2 separate regions of the Homo sapiens genome follow, and region 2 is linked to region 1. The links come from fine-mapping of genetic effects on gene expression. A gene starts in region 1. The other region holds a variant in brackets. All regions are shown on one strand. Distances are from middle to middle.

Region 1 (10,807 bases):
ACTGGTTGTTTTTTTAGAAGGAGTACAATTAATAAAATAGCATTACTACAAATTATCTAGACACCAACCACATTTCCTTGTCAATACCAACCCTCTTTTTTCCACCATCATTAATCATATATACCTATCTTTGGTGAATTCAGCAATACAAAGAATAACAAAACTTGTCACTGGAATGTATCATAAATATTTCAAATGCAGAATTCATTGCTTGTCAATTGTTCTTATTGATTAAACAAAATAGTAGAAAAAAGCTAAAATTTTACAGATGTATTTTCTGATATTAAACTATACTTTCATTCTTGGTATAGATTTTATTTAATAATAATTTGGTTGAATATGGTTTGCTAACATCTTTTTTATGACTTTTGTATATACAATATACAGACAATCCTATAATTTTTCATATATTGCTTTTATATTGCTTGGAGTCAGAATTATGCTAATGTTAAAAAATTAATTATAAGCTTTTATAAGCTTTTCCTCTTTTTAAATTTTATTGAAAATGTGGACACAATATAAATTATCTGTGTCTTAAAGTTTGGTAAAACTCACCTGCAAATCTTTCTCCACCTAGGGCATTAAAGTGAAGAGATGTCTTTACCATTTCAATTTATTAACAGTTTTCATTCTACTCAAGTTTCTTGTCACAATTTTTAATTTTATCCAGAATGATATCCATTTCCTCTGAGTTTTTACATTTATAGAAACAAAGCTGTTCATAATATTTTTGTATTTGTAATTCTGTGACGTCTATATTTACTTTTTCTGTTTAGAGATAGTTTTGGAAAAATGGACTCATTATATGCAGAATACAGTTGATTCCTAACACATATAATATACAAAGGTGACTCCTGATGGGTTGAAAACCTCATTAAGAAAGATAAAAAGGATAGCATTAATACAAAAACATGTGAGCAAATACCATCAATAATCTAGAATCTGAAGAAAACTTTAATTAAAAAATGCACAATTCATAAAGAAAATATATTGACAGATTTTATAGAATTAATGTTATGGGCTTCTGTTCAGTGAAAGGTATCATAGACAAAATTATCAAGTATTTGGCAAACTGGAAAAGATTTTTTAAATAATTGAAATTAGCAGGGGTCAACATCTAGAATACACAAGGAATTTACATATCCATAAGAAAAAGATGAGAATTTCAATATACAAAACCAGGCAATTCATTGAAAGTCAAATCTGAATTAGCGAGTATATGAAGAAAAGACCAACTCTTGATTAAAAAATTAGAGCTAAGTCAGCTATTACTGAGCCATAGAAAGATGAGTGCTCTGCACTGCTGATGGGAATGTACACTGGTATAGCTATTGTAGAGAGAAATCTAGGTGTACTTAGTGGAAGTGAATATGATCCAGTAAACTATTCCAAGGATGCATCTCAGAGAAACTTGAGCCCAGGTTCATAAGGGGACAAGCACAAAGATGTTCATTGTAGCAGCAGTTAGAACCAACTCAGTGCCCATCACTACAGAAATGAGTAAGTAAGATGTGGTGGTGTATGCATACGGTAAAATGCTATTATCCAACATCAGAAGCAATAAACTTGTATTTCATACAGTGGCATGGATGAATCTCTGAATGAATGACAAAAAACATTAAATTCAAAAATTAAATAATGAAAATTACTTAAAAATTAAAATTACAAACAGAATGAAAGTCATAGACTAATGCCATTTATGTAAATTAAAAACAGATGCATATATAAAACAGCACCATATGTGTTTCAAAGAATCACACCTATCCAAAGACATCTATATGTAATAGAATTGTGCCTATAGTGAGGAGGCTGGTAAATTGTGTGAAAATGGGGTATGAATGACAAATAATAAAAAGAAAATAAAAGAGATACCTTGGCATGGATAGTTGAAGTATGTACTGTGTGTTAGTGAGTATCATTAACTCAACACCTTGCCCCTAAGATTAAAAAGATATAAATTATATAGCCATAATGCTTGTGCTGTATAATGTAAAGAGAAACAAATGTTACACATGAACCAAAATAGATACAAATATTTTCCTTGCTTCTTTAGATTGTCCCAAAACATGCCAGGCTTGCATCATTTTCTTAAGGAGGATTATGCCATGTTTCCCTCATCCTCAGTGATCTCTACCTATCCTATGACACTCTTCAAGACACAATTTAAGTTCTACTTCTAAAAAACCTTTAAAATTGTTCCATTCATGTAAATGACTTCCTGTAACCAATTGCTTTTATAAGCTGTACCACAACATCTAAAACTTAATACTATTAACAACTCTTTTGCCCTGTATTATGTCTTGCTCACGGTTTCCTTTACTAGATGTTAACTTTCTAGAGATCAGAGAGATTTCTTTGAAGCTTTCTGTTGTGCCTAGAGCAGTGTTGTACTCAAGGTTGAAAGATCTCAATTTCTTATTGGTCTATGAATGTTATTTTCAGTTAAAAAGATCACATGGCAGGTAAAAAAAATATGCACAGACAAATACTTAAAAACGTAAGAAAAGAAGCTGAGCTTCATTCATTTTGGTAACTGGCTAGTGATATAATAGACTTGAAGCACAGAAGGTACTCAACAAATATTTGTTGAAAGAATGCATCAGAAAAATGGACTAGTCTAGAGAGGACCTCAATAAACATTTTGGTTAATAGATTTTTAGTTAAGATTTGAAATTGTGATGCAAAGGGATGGATAGGCAAGATCATAGCCGAAACTTGAAAAAAAAAACTGATCTTTTTGCAGCTGAAAATTAGTTTGAAAGTAGGGAAGCATAGAGCTAGAATAATTGCTATCACACTATGAATGGAATAGCCTTTCAATCAATGTAGTAGGTAAAGTTTGCTTTAAGTTCCTCACTTTTTTAAAGCCCCTCTTTCTTTTCTTGATGTTTCTTGTCTAGGACATTTTTCCTTCAATAAATCTTCACCCGTGACAGCCTACCTATATGCTTTCTGATTATTCCAGGCCATGAGAAACTATCACTATTTTCCCCCTGAACACTTAGAAAATTTTATTTTTACTTCAAATAAAACTAGCAAGAGCCAACTCAGAATATGCTTCCTCCCTCTAGAACAGTTTTAAGGGAAATATTTTCTTATGTTTTTGATGAAAATTATCATTTTCTTATGATTACCAAATGTATGAATTATTTTTATATGCTAAATTGTGGTAGGTTATTCCTCTTCTGGTCATGGAAGGAAGAAATGTCCTACATAGTGGAGGTGATAAACTGAGTTCTCACCGAGACTCAGAATCTCATTTAGTTGTGCTCTGCAAATGATATGAATGAGAACCAATGGCTTTCTCTAAAAGGGGACTTGAACTTCGTGTGGGATTTAAGAGACTGGAGCTTTGAAACAAGAAGCTATATGCAGCTTGCTCAGCTTTTTGGGATGTGCAGAATAGATGTGGATCTGCTTAAGGGAATGGTGGTTGAAAGCAATATAATGCAAAGTGGAAAGAATCAAGGTATGATGTAATAAAACACAGATACAATATCTATTTCAGTTAAGTACTAGTTTTGTGATCTTGACCAAGTCAGAAACATCTCTGAAAGTTTGTTTTCCTTTTTGTATGATAAGGAGGTCAGAAGATCTCGAATTCTTATTGATCTATAAATGTTATTTTCAGTTAACAAGATCACATGGCAGGTAGAAAAATTATGTACAGGTAAGTGCTTAAAAACATGAGAAGAAGCTGAGTTTCATTCATTTGAGTAACTGGCTAGTGATAAAATGGACTTGAAGCATAGAAGGTACTCAACAAACATTTGTTGAATGAATGCATGCCGAAAAATGGATTAGACTGGAGAGGAAGTAATGTCATGATACAGTGCCAAGACAAGACTCTCAGGCTAGGTATGTAGGCGGCAGAGGAAAGAACTTATTGAAGGCAGATAGGAAGAAGTCCTCTTTACTCAGGGGTCAGAATCAGGGAAAAGCTGCAGGAGCCAGGGTAGCTGTAGCGTAAAAGTTATGAAGAGACCAAAAGCATAAAAGTTATGAAGATACCTGTAGGGAAGACTAGCAATCATGTTTTAGAGAATTAAGATTCACAATAGAAATGCCTACTCAAATATATGTTAAACAACATGTCTGAACGCTTGGGTTTACACTTGAGGCAGCTATAATAAAAGGCAAGGCAAGGAAAGGGAGTGAGGAGCCCAATCAAATCACCATAGGCTTTAGAATTTAACAGACAAGAGTGTAGCCAAGCTCTACCATCCACTAATAATACAAATATTGACAAAATATTAATTGCTCTGAGACATCTAGAAAATGAACATTTTAATTCTGATAAATGAAGATTGTAGTATCTACTTTGTAGATTTCTTTTGAAGATTTGTGAATATATGAAAATGGCCTAAAACATGCCTCACATGATTTATTCTTTAATGCTATTTTTATTATTTTTAATGTTACTGTAGATTTTATGTCGAATAAGGTATCAGCCAACTCAATATTCGTCTTGCCTTCAGTGAAAGAACTTGTAATTTGTAAAATAATGGCTTCCTTATTTTTGTATTTTCTTCTGTGTGCTTTTTTTTCTCCTTAATGCTCTTTTAAAAGGCCTTCCCTCCCAACCAAAAATTCTACCTTTGCCTTAGTAGCACTAAGGAAGAAAAAGGACCTTTCCGCAGCACCCAGTCTAGAGTAGCTTATTGCCTGCAAGGCTATGGGTTGGCCAAGGAGGCCCAGGATCTCAGAGAAGCAGAAGAGCCAGGGGAACCAGGGAAGGGCGGAGGGAGTCATTGAGGCATGGTTGAAGTGGTCTTTACATGGCTCCACACAACAGATGGACTCTACCACATTCAAATGCACTTGGAGCACCTTCTCAGTAAGAGATGATGCCCCCTCAAGTGTTTGCTTGTTTAAACATACCTTCATGTGAGTGGAGAGTAGGAGGAATCCTGCTTCCTGAAGGTAACTGATTTCATAGTAGATGAAGTTAGATATGAAGTTAAACTCTTCAATTAAACAGATTAACAATAACATTAATCCGAGGTTTGTTATGGACAACACATTAATACTGGTAACTTGCCAGTAGATACGCTATAGTCAGCAAACAGTACAGCTTGTTTACGATTGCTAAATCAAATTTTCAAAGAAATGTAGTTCTGGTAATTGTAAGCAAAACCGTTAAAATGGTCTGAGTTAGTTTTGAAGTTACTTTCATCTTCAGGAGGTTTTGAACTCTGTTAGAGACGGGCGGGCCTCATTCTGTCAGGTTGTAGGTTAATTCCCCAACTCAAACTTCCCCGATCAAACATTGTCAGGCCAGGCGACTGTTTTGGTTTATGGATGATAAAGTATAGGGCCAAGGTAGGCCAAGAGTAGAAGACAGAGGGAGGGCTGGGTTTCACTTCTAATTTTTGGCCCAAGCTTTCATGGTGAGGAAACTGTTTTCAAGGGCTTAGAGCAATCGCAGTTCCACAATCGCAGATAGAAAGTATGATTTCTCTGGAAAAAAAGTGTCTTAACCTATGAAGCTGTGTGTGAAGATCAAGTGTAGGGGATACGCTGAGGTCAAGTCATGCGACCAAAGACCGGAAAACGGAGATTGCTGCATGCAAGCGTGCTGGGCGTTTGTTTGGTTTGCTTGCCTGCTTAAAGTATCCACTGGGAGGGATGGCGGCTAGAAGTCAGAGGCATTGACTGATTGAGGAACTGGTGAAGCGGAGCCCATGAGGTGCTGAGGTACTCTAAATAGGAGGATAAGGTATGAGGCAAAACAAGGCTGGAGTCAAACAAAGGCGCCGTTGCATCGCAGATTGCAACCTGAAGCGGCTCCCGGCTCCCTGGAGAGTAACCCGGAGAGACGGACAGGGGTGGCAGCCAGGAGGAGACCGCAGGAACCTCGCCTCCGCCGCGGCCCCGCCCCCACGGATCCCCGCCCCCGCAGTTGCGGAACCAATGGGAGCTCGGAATGTTAGCGGGTGGGAGGTGCGGCTGGGTTGCTACAGCCAGAGCTGGGCGGTGGCGGGCGCTGCTGAAGGAGTCTCGCTGAGCTCGAGGAGGTGGCGCGATGGAGGGACTGGAAGGTGAGGCGATGAAGGGATGAGGGCAGGACGGCTAGAGCGGGCCCGAAACAGCTGGGGACCCTGGACACCAGTAGCAGGAAGGCGAGGGCTGGTTCGGTGCGGCGGACCTCGCCGCGTCCCGCCGCGCCTCCGGAGGCTGGGGCCGAAGGGAACCGGACAGTCCCCGATGCGGTGGAGCTAACGCTACCAGGCTGCCCCGCCTCAGACGGTCTTCAACTGGGCTTTCCCGCCCGGAGCCAGATCCTGCCCCTGGCAAGACGCCTGCACGTCTCTTCCTACCATTTTCTGATCTTGCTTGACTCCTGAGTGCCCTTTTAGTGATCCCAGTCTCTGGCCAGATTTTGTTTTCCTTGTACTGGACTCTCTCCATTATTGTCCACGGCCTTAACACCAACAGGCCACTTTGTGCTGCAGCCCCGGGGTGTGTCTCCAGCCTCGAGCTCCTGACATTCCTTGGCCGATTTCCCTAGGTAACCGGCTTTTTACATTTCGACAGCATCTTCTGTCGGAGGGATGTCAGAGCATCTCCTAAGGAAGTGTCACTGGCCAGCTTTAGAGCCGGTACAATAGATTACCCGGAGGATTTGATGACTTATTCACGGCCGCTGTGTGAGGAAGAGCCTGTATTGGTTCCTTATCTTTGGGTTTATCTTTGTACTGTAACCATGACTCCAGATTTTGCTTTGTTCCCAGTTCTTTCACTTTTTCTCTATTCTGTTTACCCATTTTATCCTGTGTAATGAAAGCATTCACCTAAAAACAAAGGAAGGACAAAAACCACAATAACTAGCATTGGCAACAACAGTTTCAAGATTTTTTAATTTGTTATGATGAAGAACAAACCTTCAGAATTGAAAGATCCTATTGTCTTGATTTAGCTCCTTTCCCCCGTCTCCTAGTTTACACGGATTCAGTTGGAATTAAGAATGAGCAGAAGCTTTTGAGTCTTGTGTATTGTTGCATGCCAGGGAGTAAAATATTCTACATTGTGTGATGAAGTGCAAAGTGGTAGCCGGTAACTTTTTCAGTCACCTATTCACCAAAAAGCAGATGTAATAACATGAGTAGAAGTTTATTTCGTGCTTTTGCTCTGATAAATGATTCTGATAATTTTCCGTTTGTGGACAGCTGCAGTATGCTATGGCCTAATGAAGGTCTTGTTTTTTGCTTATGTGTTTTTGGAAGATAATTCAAGTTTCCATGAAATAAGGAATTGTAATGATAGTACAGTATATTTTACTTTCAAGATACTTTTGTATCTTGGTGGGATTAAAGCATGGGTTATGGAATTCTCATGAGATTATCATATATAATATGATAAGGTTTTATTACATATTATCTATAAAGTGTTTTGAACAGTTTGCAGATTTTTATTATTTTATTCAACATTTGTTATTAAGACAAAGATCATCATCTGATTTTTCACTTATGTATCCTAGGCACCTAAAACAATGTCTGACACAAAGTAGGTACTCAATAAATATTTGTTGTTAAATAAATGTCTATTATGGGCATCTTTTTAGGTTCTAGGTTGCAGCAAAGAATAAAAATGATAAAGCTTTACTCTCATCGAACCTACATTTTAGTGGACCTTACATTTTAACAGTGCTAAGATATTACTATTGAAACCTTACTACGAATGTTTTTAAAATATAATGGAAACCTATTATGACACTCAGTTGCATAGGTGGACAAAGGTAGGATTCTGTATTTATAGGCATATTTTATGGGTCCAGCTTATGATGTTATAGGGCCCAGCTTATGATGTTAATAGTGCTTGCCCTTTACTTTTAGATTTTTTTTTTTTACAAAATAAGATGCTATCATTAACTATAATGTGTTTAATTGTGATAAACTGAGTTGAAATATGTGAAGTTGCCCTAAATTATGTAGGGCAAAACAGTTGAATTCTGGTAATTTCAAGCAGTTCAATCTAATAAAAGCTCTTGAGAATTTTCTGTTGAAGTTAGGATGGTGCCTTTCTCTCCTTCCTCCTTCTCCCCTCTCCCTCCCCTAAGAGATCACACCTTGCAAATATCAAACTCTGAGTCTTAAGGTTACCGTTCATTAATTCATCCATTCTTTCATTCTAGAAACATTGATACAGTGATAGATTAGGTAGTTTCTTACCTCTATTGGAAGTTAAAGTCTAGTACTTTGAAGGTGTTTAATAAATATTATATTGCAGTATCCAGTAAGAAATATTCAAAAGTTTGCTTAATGTGTCAGAGTAATTGCGTAAATATTGTACTCTGGCATTAGACATATGTTTCTAGTTGAAACCAGTTACCAGACATTAATCTTGGCTATAAAACAAGAAAATATATGGACTCTTGAAAATTTCTATTAAAGATAATCTTACTCTTTCTTATAACTTACGTTATTTGCATGTAATCATATACCATTTGTTTTACTTTTGGTCTTCAGGGTCTTTATGCTTCTTGAATAGTCAATAGATGAGGTATTAGGCTCAAACACTATACTTTGAAATGAAATATAAGTTATCTGTTTTTGTAGAATCAATATCTGAGCACTTCTACATTCTGTAGATAGTTATAGCAAAACCTTTTAATTCCTTTTCATCTAATAAAATTTGTGCCCCACAAAATCTATCTAAGGATAATAGAAGTAGTTCTAGACTTGAGAGAGTTCCAATCTCTTATAAGCTTTTTTTATTTGTAAAATGGAGAGATGGTAAAATCTAAGCAGATTTTATCCTTATATACAGTATTGTCATTCCCTTCATATCCCTGATAAATGGTTATAAAAATTGTGGCAGAGATCAGACTGTCCGTTCCTCTTGTGGATTGTTGAAATTATTAGATCTTAGTACTGCCCTCTAAAACTTGATTAGAAGACTGATTGCTCTTCAGTGTAGCCCTTGGTTTAAAGATAGTCGTGTCTCATCAAAATTTCTGTTTTGTTTTATTTTTTCGTAGTATAAATGTATACTAGTTTACTGTATAATTCTTTATCTTTATTAATTTATCTAGCATTTACTGCTTTTTGGTAGTGAGTTGGATGCCAGATATTTTAATAGACAGTATATTGGAGAGGACTGTGTTTGAATCCTTGCTTTGTTTCTTTTTAGCTCTATGATTTGGGCAGTTTACTTAATCTGAACCCTTATTTTCCCTGCTATGAAAAAAATGGAGCTATTAAATATGTAACTACCTAAATTATATTAAGTATTAAATAATGTAATATATGTAAAACATTTAGCTAAGTACCTAGTGCATAGGAGGCCCTCTCAGTGTGTGTTTGTTAGATGGCGAAAATCACAAAAAGCATGTTAGCAGGTCCAGTATAGGTAAAACATAGCATGCTTGGGAGGAGCGAAGGAAACATTGAAGCCAAGAGAGAAAGGACTTTAAAGGTGAAAGAGATTTGTCAGCAGTGGCTCAGACTGTAGAAAGGCCCAGTAGGATGGGGATTCAAAAGAGAGCTTCAGATTTGACAATTAGTAAATAGTAATCCGTTACCTTCCTTTTTAATGTCATTATTGTGTCCTTATTAAACAAACTTTCCCTGATTATCCATACTTCTCCAAGACAGCATTATGACCATCTCTTCTCCCCTTACTTTGTTCTACCTTCATTGTGGTTATCACCATGTAACATTTTATATATTAGTTTTTATTCATTTTTTCCCTGTTAGATCAGTGAAAGCTCTATAAGATCAGAGTATTTGTTTTTTATCATCCTTATACTCCTACCTCCTAGAACAGTTTCTGCCTCATGCTAGGTGCTCAACAAATACTTATTGAATCAAGGAATGAATGTATTTCTTTCTTTCTTTCTTTCTTTCTTTTTTTTTTTTTGATACGGAGTTTCGCTTTTGTTGCCCAGGCTGGAGTGCAGTGGCATGATCTGGGCTCACCACAACCTCCGCCTTCTGGGTTCAAGCGATTCTCCTCCCTCAGCCTCCGGAGTAGCTGGGATTACAGGCATGTGCCACCAAGCCTAGTTAATTTTGTATTTTTAGTAGAGATGGGGTTTCTGCATGTTGGTCAGGCTGATCTCGAACTCCTGACCTCAGGTGGTCTGCCTGCCTCGACGTCCCAAAGTGCTGGGATTACAGGTGTGAGCCAACGCACTCGGCGGAATGGATGTATTTCAATATAGTGCTTGGCCTGATAATGTCTCCCTGCAGTTCAGACAGTGAGTGAATGAGAGGCAGAGAAGGACTAAGCAGAAAATGTAAGTTAGTGTTTCAAAAAATGTGCTCATCAGGACATTGGTGGAGAACATTGGTTTTGGGAGTACAAAGGATTTCTGATAAAATAAATTTGGGCAAATAACAACATACTAAGCTTCTTTTTTTAAGACTAAGGGAGTTCTGCTCTAAGAGAACCCATTTAACTTAGGTTAATGTACCATTTTCCAAACATTTGGCCATGTAGCAAGGGATTCGTGGATAATTCCTAGTATAAATGATGGGTCATGTTCAGACTGGGTAGGAAAGGACATGCAGCCAGGAATGAACTTATTAAGAAAAGCAAGTCACTCTGAGATCAAGATAGTAACTTAGAGAAAGGTAGGAGGTAGAATTCTATGGTTAAAGAGGAAACTTGAGTGTTTTAAAGTCCAGAGTTGGTTGTTTTGGCAGTAGTTTTGCTGAACTAGAGTGTAGGTGACTAAAATGCTGTGAAGGATGAAGGTTGTGTGTTGAGTCGGGTAGGCATTGACTAGGTTAAGACAAAAACTCTTCTAGGATGAGCTGAAAAGGGTAAATCTTCTGAGACACTGGATAATATTGATCTGAAA
Region 2 (10,807 bases), 40 kb after region 1:
ATGTGTCCATGTAGTCTCATAATTTAGCTTCCACTTATAAGTGAGAACATGCAGTATTTGGTTTTCTGTTCCTGTGTTAGTTTCCTAAGGATAATGGCCTCCAGCTCCATTCATGTCCCTCCTAAGGACATGATCTAATTCCTTTTTATGGCTGCATAGTATTCCATGGTGTTTATGTACTATATTTTCTTTATCCAGTATATCATTGATGGACATTTAGGTTGATTCCATGTCTTCAGTATTATGAATAGTGCTGCAGTGAACATATGTGTGTGTCTTTATAATAGAATGATATATATTCTTCTGGGTATATACTCAGTAATGGGATTGCTGGGGGAAATGGTAGTTCTGTCTTTAGGTCTTTGAGGAATTGCCACACTGTCTTTCACAGTGGCTGAAGTAATTTACATTCCCACCAGCAATGTATAAGCATTCCTTTTTTCTCCACAACCTCACCAGTGTCTGTTATTTTTTGTCTTTTTAACAGCAGCCATTCTGACTAGTGTGAGATAATACCTCATTGTGGTTTTGATTTGCGTTTCTCTAATGATCAGTGATGTTGAGCTTTTTTTCATATGACAGTTGACCGCATGTATGTCTTCTTTTGAAAAGTGTCTGTTCATGTCTGTTGTCCACTTTTTAATGGGATTGTTTGTTTTTTTTCTTGTAAGTTTCTTTTTTTCTTGTAAGTTTGTTTTTTTCTTGTAAGTTTGTTTGTTAAATTATAGATGCTGGGTATTAGACTTTTGTTGGATGCATAATTTGCAAATATTTGCTCCCATTCTGTAGGTTGTCTGTTTACTCTGTTGATAGTTTCTTTTGCTATGCAGAAACTCTTTAGTTTAATTACAGCCCATTTGTCAATTTGTGTTTTTGTTGCAATTGCTTTTGGCATCTTCATTATAAAATCTTTGCTGCTGCCTGTGCCCTGAATGGTATTGGCTAGGTTGTCTTCCAGGGTTTTTATAGTTTTTGGTTTTACATTAGTCTTTAATCCATCTTGTGTTAATTTTTGTATATGGTGGAAGGAAGGGATCCAGTTTCAGTCTTCTGCATATTGCTAGCCAATTATCCCAGCACCTTTTATTAAATAGGGAATCCTTTTTCCATTGCTTATTTTTGTCAGGTTTGTCAAATATCAGATAGTAGTAGGTGTGTGGTCTTACTTCTGGGCTTGCTATTCTGTTCCACTGGTCCATGTTCCAGTACCATGCTGTTTTGATTACTGTAGCCCTGTAGTATAGCTGGAAGTCAGGCAGCATGATGCCTCCAGCATTGTTCTTTTTGCTTAGAATTACCTTGGCTAGTTTGACTCATTTTTTATTCTATATTAATGTTGAAATAGTTTTCTCTGGTTCTGTGAAGAATGTCACTGATAGTTTAATGGGAATAGCATTGAATCTATAAATTGCTTTAGGCAGTATCACCATTTTAACAATATTGATTCTCCCTATCCATGAGCATGGAATATTTTTTCATTTATTTGTGTCATCTTTAATTTCTTTGAGCATTGGCTTGTAGTCCTCCTTGTATAGATCTTTCACCTCCCCAGTTACCTGTATTCTTAGGTATTTTATTCTTTTTGTGGCAATTGTGAATGGGAGTTTGTTCCTGATTTGGCTCTCTGCTTAGCTGTTATTAGTGTATAGGAATGCTAGTGATTTTTGCACATTGATTTTAGAATCCTGAGACTTTGCTAAAGTTGCTTATCAGGTTAAGAAGCTTTTGGGCTGATATAATGGGGTTTTCTAGATACATGATCATGTCATCTGCCAGCAGGGATAGTTTGACTTCCTCTCTTCCTATTTGGATGCCCCTTTATTTCTTTCTCTTGCCTGATTGCACTGGCCAGAACTTCCAAAACTATGTTGAATAGGAGTGGTGAGAAAGGGCATCTTTGTCTTGTGCCAGTTTTCAAGGGGAATGCTTCCAGCTTTTTCCCATTCAGTATGATGTTGGCTGTGGATTCGTCATAAGTGGCTAATATTTTGAGGTATGTTCCTGCAATACCTAGTTTATTGAGAGTTTTTAACGTGAAGGGATGTTGAATTTTATTGAAAACCTTTTCGTCATCTATTAAGATAATCATGTGCTTTTTGTCTTTAATTTTGTTGTGATGAATAGCATTTATTGATTTGCATATGCGGAGTCAACCTTGCATCCCAGGGATGAAGCCTACTTGATCCTGGTGGATAAGCTTGTTGATGTGCTGCTGGATTTGATTTGCTAGTATTTTGTTGATGTTTATCAAGGTTATTGGCCTGAAGTTTCCTTTTTTGTTGTGTCTCTGCCAGGTTTTGGTATCAGGGTGATGCTGGCCTTATAGAATGAACTAGAGTTGAGTCCCTTCTTCTCAATTTTTTGGAATAATATCAGTAGGAATTGTACCAGTTCTTTGTGCATCTAGTAGAATTCAGCTGTGAATCCATCTGGTCCTGGGCTTTTTTCAATTGGTAAGCTATTTATTACTGCCTCAGTTTCAGAACTCGTTATTTGTCTGTTCAGGGATTCAATTTCTTCCTGGTTCAGTCTTGGGAGGGTGTAGGTGTCCAGGAATTTATCCATTTCTTCTAGATTTTCTAGTTTATGTGTATTGAGGTATTCATAATATTCTGTGATGACTTGTATTTCTATGGGGTCAAGTGGTAATACCCCTCTTGTCATTTCTGATTGTGTTTATTTGAATATTCTCTATTTTCTTCTTTTTAGTGTAGCTAGCAGCCTATATATTTTATCAATTTTTTAAAAAGCAGCTCCTAGATTTGTTGATCTTTTGAATGGTTTTTCATGTATCTTCTTCAGTTTAGCTCTGATTTTGACTATTTCTTGTCTTCTGCTAGCTTTGGGATTTGTTTGTTCTTGTTTTTCTAGTTCTTTTAGTTGTGATCTTTGGTTGTTAACTTGAGATCTTTCTAACTTTTGATGTGGGCATTTAGTCCTATAAATTTCCCTTTTACACTGCCTTAGCTGTGTTCTAGAGAGTCTGGTATGTTGTTTCTTTGTACTCTAAGTTTCAAAGCACTTCCCGATTTCTGCGTTAATTTCATTATTTATCCAAAAATCATTCAGGAGAAGGTTATTCAATTTATATGTAGTTGTAGGGTTTTGAGTTAATTTCTTAATCTTGATTTCTAATTTAATTGTTCTGTGGTTTGAGAGAATATTTGTTATGATTTCAGTTCTTTTGCTTTTACTGAGGATGTTTTACATCCAATTATGTGATCAATTTTATTTTATTTTATTTTATTTTTGAGATGGAGTTTCACTCTGTCGCCCAGGCTATAGTGCTGTGGCATGATCTTGGCTCGCTGCAACCTCTGCCTCCTGGGTTCAAGCGATTCTCCTGCCTCAGCCTCTCGAGCAGCTGGGATTACAGGGATGTGCCACCACACCTGGCTAATTTTTGTATTTTTAGTAGAGATAGGGTTTCCTCATGTTGGCCAGGCCAGTCTCAAACCCCTAACCTCAGGTCATCTGCCTGTCTCAGCCTCCCAAAGTGTTAGGATTACTGGCATGAGCCACCGCGCCTGGCCCATGTGATCAATTTTAGAGTATGTGCCAGATGGTGATGAGAACACTATTCTGTTGTTTTAGGGTGGAGAATTCTGTAAATATCTATCAGGTCCATTTGATCCAGTGCTGAGTTCAGGTCCTAAATATTTATTTGTTAATTATCTGTCTTGATAATCTGTCTAATATTGTCAGTGAGGTGTTAAAGTCTCCCACTATTATCGTGTGAGAGTCTAAGTCTCATTGAAGGTCTCTAAGAACTTGGTTTATGAATCTGAGTGCTCCTGTGTTGGGTACATTTGTATTTAGGATAGTTAACTTTTCTTGTTAAATTGAACCCTTTACCATTATGTAATACCCTTCTTTTTTTTTTTTTTTTAAATCTTTGTTGGTTTAAAGTCTGTTTTATCAGAAATTAGGAGTACAACCCCTGCTTTTTTCTGTTTTCCATTTGCTTGGTAAATTTTTCTCCATCCCTTTATTTTGATCCCATGTGTGTCATTGCATGAGATGGGTCTCTTGAAGACAGCATACCAATGGATCGTGGTTCTTTATCAAAATACTTGCCACTCTGTGTCTTTTAATTGGGTCATTTAGCCCATTTACATTTAAGACTAGTATTGATGTGTGTGGATTTGATTGTCATAATGATGCTAGCTGGTTATTTGGCAGACTTGTTTATGTAACTAACAGTTTTACAGTATTACTGGTCTGTGTACCTCATTGAGTTTTTGTAGTGGCTCGTAATTGTCTTTTCTTTCCATATTTAGTGCTTCCTTCAGGAGCTCTTGTAAGGCAGGTCTGGTGGTAACAAATTCCTACAGCATTTGCTGGTCTGAAAAAGGTTTTATTTCTCCTTCACTTATGAAGCTTAGTTTGGCCTGATATGAAATTTTGAGTTGGAATTTCTTTTCTTTAAGAATGTTAGCCAGGTGTGGTGGCTCACGCCTGTAATCCCAGCACTTTGGGAGACCGAGGCGAGCGGATCACCTGAGGTCAGGAGTTCAAGACCAGCCTGACCAATGTGGTGAAAGCCTGTCTCTATTTAAAAAAAAAATACAAAAATTAGCCGGGTGTGGTTGTGTGCACCTGTAGTCCCAGCTACTTGGGAGGCTGAGGCAGGAGAATTGCTCGAACCCAGGAGGCAGAGGTTGCAGTGAGCCGAGATTGCGCCATTGTACTCCAGCCTGGGTGACAGAGTGAGACTCCATCTCAAAAAAAAAAAAAAAAAAAGAATGTTAAATATTGGTCCCCAATATCTTCTGGCTTGTAGGGTTTCCACTGAGAGGTCTGCTGTTAGTCTGATGGGCTTTCCTTTGTAGGTGACCTGGCCTTTCTCTCTAGCTGCCTTTAACATTTCTTCTTTCATTTCAGTCTTGGAGAATCTGATGATTATGTGTCTTGTGGATGATCATCTCATGAGTATCTTACTGGGGTTCTCTACATTTCCTGAATTTGAATGTTGGCCCATCTAGCTAGGTTAGGAAAGTTCTCATGGATGACATCCTGAAATATGTTTTTCAAATTGGTGCCATTCTCCTCATCTCTTTCAGATATACCGGTCAGTCATAGATTTGGTCTTTTTATATAATGTCACACTTCTTGGAGCTTTTGTTCATTCCTTTTCATCCTTTTTTTCTCTATTCTTGTCAGCGTGTCTTATTTCAGAAAGCCAGTCTTCAAGCTCTGAGATTTGTTCTTCGCTTGGTCTCTTCTGCTATTAATACTTGTGATTCCATTATGAAATTCTTGTAGTGTGTTTTTCAGCTTTATCAGGTTGGTTATGTTCTTCTCTATACTGGCTATTTCATCTGTTTGCTCCTGCAGTGTTTTATCATGATTTTTAGCTTCCTTTCATTGGATTACAATGTATTGCTTTAGCTCAGTGAACTTCGTTCCTGTCC[G/A]TATCCTGAATTCTGCTTCTTTCATTTCAGCTGTCTCAGCCTCAGCCTGATTCTGAGGAGATTCTCAGCCTGATTCCTGTTGGAGAGGTGATGCGGTCACTTGGAGGAAAAGAGGGCACTCTGGCTTTTTAAGTTTTCAGCATACTTGTGCTGATTCTTTCTCATCTTTGTGAGCTTACCTAACTTCAGTCTTTGAGGCTGCTTACCTTTGGATGGGTTTGTTTTTTTGAACAACTCTGGCTACTTTTCCATAGGGCTGCTTGTGTATGCTGGGTGTCCACTCCAGTCACTAGTCACCTTGGATTTTTCAGTAGCTGGAGGTGTCACCAGTGAAGGCTACAAATCAGCAAAGGTAGTGGCCTGCCCCTCCTCCTGGGAGCTTCATTTTAGGGATGCCTCAAACCTCTGTCAGCCAAAGAACACCTGTGGGTGTGGCTGAAGACTCCAGTTGGGAGGCTCCACCTGGTGATGAGGAATGGGACTGGGAACCTGCTTAATAAAGCAGTCTGGCCACATTTTTATGGGACCACTGTGGTGTGCTGTTGTACCACTTCCACCTCTGGGTCGGCATGGGCTCTCCAAACCCCAGAGACTGAAACTGCTAAGTTGCCCAAACAGCAAAGATGATGGCCTGCACACCCTGTGGGAGTTCTATCCCAGGGACTTTGCAAATCTCTGTAGGCCAGAGAACACCTGCAGGGCTGGCTGGAGGTCCCAGTTGGGAGGTTCTTTCCAGTGAGGAGGGGCAATATTGGGGACTTACTTAAAGAAGCAGTGTGGCCACACTTTCCTAGAGCAGCTGTGTTGTGCTGGGTTACCACTTTCGTCCCAGTTGGCTTTGGCTCTCTGTGGGCCAGAGAATACCAGCAGGGATGGTTGGAGGTCCCAGTTGTGAGGTCCTGCTCTGTGATGAGGAATGGATTGGGAACCTGCTTAACCAGCAGTCTGACCACATTTTGGTAAAGAAGTCATGCTATGCTGGGGAATCCTCTCTGCCTCTGGTTGGTTTGTACTCTCCAAAGCCTGCAGAACAGCTGAGTCACCCAAACAGCAAAGATGGCAGCCTGTCCCTTCCCCTGGGAGTTCCATCCCAGGTAGGCTCAAAACTGCTACTGGTGGCTGGCTGGAATTCCAAGCCAGTGGGTCTTATCCTGTGAGGTGTTATGAAAGTGAGACCTGCAGACTGTCTCTACTTGGTCCTCTTGATTCAGCCTTTTTTCCTAAGGGTATGTACGGGGGTCTAACATCCTGCTTTGCTGGAGTTGCAGTTACTTTTGCTGGGAAGTTTGGAGTTCCTGGGTCTTTGCCTGTGCCGGAGCAGCTGCTCTGCCAAGACTCCCCATATCTGTATGTCAGACTGAAGGCTCTAGTGGAGTGGCTTCACAAGGGCGTCTCTTGACCCAAGGGTTGCAAAGATCCGTTGGAGAAGCGTGGTTTCCCAGGGTCACACGTTCACTCACTGCTTCCCTGGGCCAGAGAGGTTCACCTTGCTCTGTGTCGCTCCAAGGTGGGCTGTCATCCTGCCTCTCTTTTCTTTGTTCTCTGTGGGTCAAGTTGTTTCCTTGATTAGTCCCAATGCAAGTACATGGATGTTTCAGATGAAGGTGCTGTATTTACTCACCCCTTTTCCTGTTATTTTCAAGTGTAAGTTATATGTGGCTCACATTCATTTTGGTTTTTATGTGGGAAATATATACAAAGATATCTGTCAAATGATAGTAACTACATTTTGCTTCTCAATTCAGACTACATAGAAAATGGAAGACCTAAAGGAATATAATGTAATTATCATTATAGAAAAGGAAAAAAAAATCAACCAACAATATCTTTTGAGTTAAGTGATTTTTCTTATTGTTGTGCTTCCAAAAACAAGAGACAGGCTATCCATAAGAAAGAGACAGTTTATCAGTAGATCAGGTAGTTGAAAAGTAAAAAAATTTTATCTTTTAGTGGTAAGAAACTGATCTGATTTATTTTCTTCTCCAATGAGTTGACTCATTGGATGATTAAGTGAAGTATAGACATAGCAATATGTGCTTTAATTTTACAAAGTCATTTTACCATATCACAGAGAATTGGCCTCCATGTTAGGTAACAATATTTGTTCATAGTGTTGTTTATAGTTTCACTTACAGTTGATCATAGATTAAAAGCTGATATTTTTCAGTATTTCTATAGTACTGGCAATTTTATCAGTTGGCAATATTAAATTGTACTGACACAGTATTCCTAGATAGGACGTGTAAAGCTGGCTGGTGTAATGAAGAGAGGCGCTGACCTTGGAGTTAGAAGACTAGGTTTCTGCATCATAATCTGCCACTAAATAGCTTTGGGCATGTATCTCTTTGTCATGCTGTGACATATTGTCTGACTGTGACAACATCTGTGACTCTGGTTAGACCTTGACAACTGATCCAAGAAAATCTGACCAACATACCTGGTTACTAATGGAAAATATGCTTTTGCTAACAAGCAGAGATTTTGAGTACAATAATTTTGTCAGTTGTGCATTGCTTATGATGAATGCCATGAAGAATACATATTTTTTGGCTATCCCACATCATATATAACTGTCAATCATACCTGTTCAAATTCTGATTGTCCATTCTGTATAAGATCCTTGCAGATTAAAGGAAGCTTTCCAACTACTGGAAAGAGAGCTGTGGAGCTCATTTCTACCAATATATTACTATATTAACTGGAACATTGTGTTACTGTATTAAATTAGAACCATTCATAGCTGTCTATTTAGTGACAGAGTTCCTTCCTTTTTTTTTCTTTTTTTTTTTTTAAGAATTAGTGAAGTAATGATTTGTTTCTCTTGCTAGATTGTAAGCTCCATGATGGCAAAGACTATGTCTGCCTTGCTTCCATTTGTAACTAAAATCTAGCAGAATGCCTAGGCTAACAAAAAATTTTTGGTTAAGTGAAAAAAGATAATAAATTAATTCCCTCATCTGTTAATCTATTGGCATGTCACAGAATTATCATCTGGTACCAGTGAAAGAATTACTTAAAGTTTGTATGACAACTGTTATTTCGATTTATACAGATGATTCAGGATTGAGTAAAGGTTGAATTAAGACATTTGGTCAGGTGTAATGCTCAATAAATTGAGCATTCGCTGAGATTAGTAAATGCTGTTATTTCAGTGGATTGCAATTATTTAAAGTCTGGTGTATGTAATCTTTATTGTAGTCCACTTTAATCAGGCATACCAGTGATCTGTAATAGAATCATGCCACAAAGAGATTTATTTTTACACTCAGAAAAATTCTCATATGTTTGGTTGTTTGCTTCTAGACAGTTTGTGGATTAGGCCAGGTGCAGTGCCTCACACCTGTAATCCCAACACTTTGGGAGAGTGAGGTGGGAGAGTCGCTTGAACCCAGGAGTTTGAGACTTGCCTGGGCAACATAGTAAGAACTCGTCTCCATTAAAAAAACAAAAACAAAAACAACCTTTTTAAACCTTTTTTTAAATGTAAAAAAAAGCAATCAAATCAATTTCTAGGTCAATTTTAACAGATTTGTTTAAAAAACAACAAAACACACCCAAGTAGAAAGTTTTTCCCTTCTTCTAAAAGATGATTATCTTTTTTTTTTCTTTTTTTTTTTTTTGAGATGGAGTTTTGCTCTTGTTGCCCAGGCTGGAGTGCAATGGTGCGATCTTGGCTCACCGTAACCTCCGCCTCCTGGATTCAAGTGATTCTGCTGCCTCAGCCTCCCCATTAGCTGGGACAGGTGTGTGCTACCATGTCTGGCTAATTTTGAATTTTTATGGGTTTTCACCATGTTAGGCTGGTCTCAAACTTCCGACCTCAAGTGATCCATCCACCTCGGTTTCCCAAATTGCTGGGATTACAGGCATGAGCCACCACGCCCGGCCAAAAGATGATTATCTTTAATACCAGGAAATTTTAGAAATACAGTGAAACACAGATCTTTTAAATAAATATTTCCCCATTTGAATTGTTCCCTAGAGTTTACACAGTTGTACCTTATTACCAGTTTAAATGGATATCTCAGTTAATAATTTTCAATAGTGAAACTATCAAATATCAGAGATTTACTTCCTTTTAGTTACTATGAAAAGCACATTTACTTTGGAGAGCAACTGTAATACACCTAAAATTAGAGCAACCAAAGGCATGTATGGAGCATTTTTTAATTTAAAAAATTGCATTTTGTTTCTCATACCTTATTTAAAACATTAAGAAGTAAATGTCTTTAGTTTTTGAGTACATTTTTATATGAATAGGAAACATGCTGTTTTCATAATCCAGTCTTTTGATGTGTGTGAAATGAATTTGTGTGGAGCGTTATGTGAATTTTTATGAACTTATCTTTTATTGTTGATCTAGAAATGCTTGTGATAACCTAGAATTCCAGACCTCGGTTTCTTATGTGGATAACAATGATTGGAGATTTTGGATAGGGAGCTAACTTTGCTGTGGAATTGAGATACTAATTATTTGTGTAGGATTGATAAATTTAGGATCAAAAGTAGAGGTATGACACATTTCAAAACTGCCTTAGAGCAGGGGGGTGTTCAATCTTTTGGCTTCCCTGGGCCACACTGAAAGAAGAATTGTCTTGGACCACATATAAAATACACGAACGCTAATGATAGCTGATGAACTAAAAAAAAAAAAAAAAATTTCATAATGTTTTAAGAAAGTTTACGAATTTGTATAGGGCCCCATTCAAAGCCATCTTGGGTGGCATGTGGCCTGTGAGCTGCTGGTTGGACAAGATTGCCTTATAGCATCATAACAACAGAGGTGTGCAAAGATACAAAATACCATCCGGTAAATTCTTTTCCCAATATTATTTCAGAAATCATCTTTTTGTTATATCTCAATCTACAGTACTTGCTACACTCCTACAAGGTACCTAGTAAGCCACACTAAAATTACTTATTTCGTAAGTGAATTCACTCTCCTGGTATCAACAGTAAATGACTTTTCCTATGTTAAAGTTTATTTCAAATCAGGGATAGGTTGATATCGTCACCATACTCATTCAGCTATGAGTATTTTGAAGGCCTGTGAAAGTATTATATGTATAAAATCTTGATTGTTATTGAGATTTATAGATTTTGTTTTTGATAGCCTAATGGCAACTTAGAATGTAAGTTATTAAGTGATTATAGCCTAAAAATAGCATTCATTAACTTTTAGCCTAAGTAACATTTGAGTTTTGAATGTACATATATATATATGCACACATATAAATCAAGTTGAATGTTATAATACAAGTATGGTTAAAATCATTACTGGAACCTGTCCTTCAATTAGGTTTTCAAAATCTGAAAATATTGGCAATCTTTTTATATATGTAATGTTTCCATTGGATAATTACCTTTAGGTTTTTATTATATTTTACACATCT

Which allele goes with the higher level. Alleles are on the strand shown, and positions count from the first base shown. SD is a standard deviation of normalised expression in the study named.
For the expression in tibial nerve of the gene that starts at base 5,966 in region 1, G is the low allele of the variant in region 2 and A is the other (small effect, 0.19 SD a copy in GTEx).

What was found.
Region 2: its variant is fine-mapped to the expression of ZC2HC1A in tibial nerve (GTEx, PIP above 0.99).

What each region holds. Positions count from the first base shown.
Region 1 is chr8:78,660,124-78,670,930 of GRCh38, forward strand. ZC2HC1A (zinc finger C2HC-type containing 1A) reads left to right here and starts at 5,966. Exons shown (of 9, transcript NM_016010.3): 1 at 5,966-6,041. The coding sequence starts at 6,026. It overlaps LOC105375911 (a long non-coding RNA gene), which reads right to left and starts at 5,856. Exons shown (of 4, transcript XR_007060972.1): 1 at 4,882-5,856. RefSeq lists enhancers at 5,089-5,597, 5,598-6,105, 6,070-6,119 and a silencer at 5,780-5,999.
Region 2 is chr8:78,699,664-78,710,470 of GRCh38, forward strand. All of the region lies in intron 7 of ZC2HC1A (zinc finger C2HC-type containing 1A), which reads left to right. It also overlaps a transcript of IL7 not described here. Among named protein-coding and RNA genes, the nearest start is that of ZC2HC1A, 39 kb to the left of the region's middle. The variant G/A (reference allele first, on the strand shown) is at 5,415.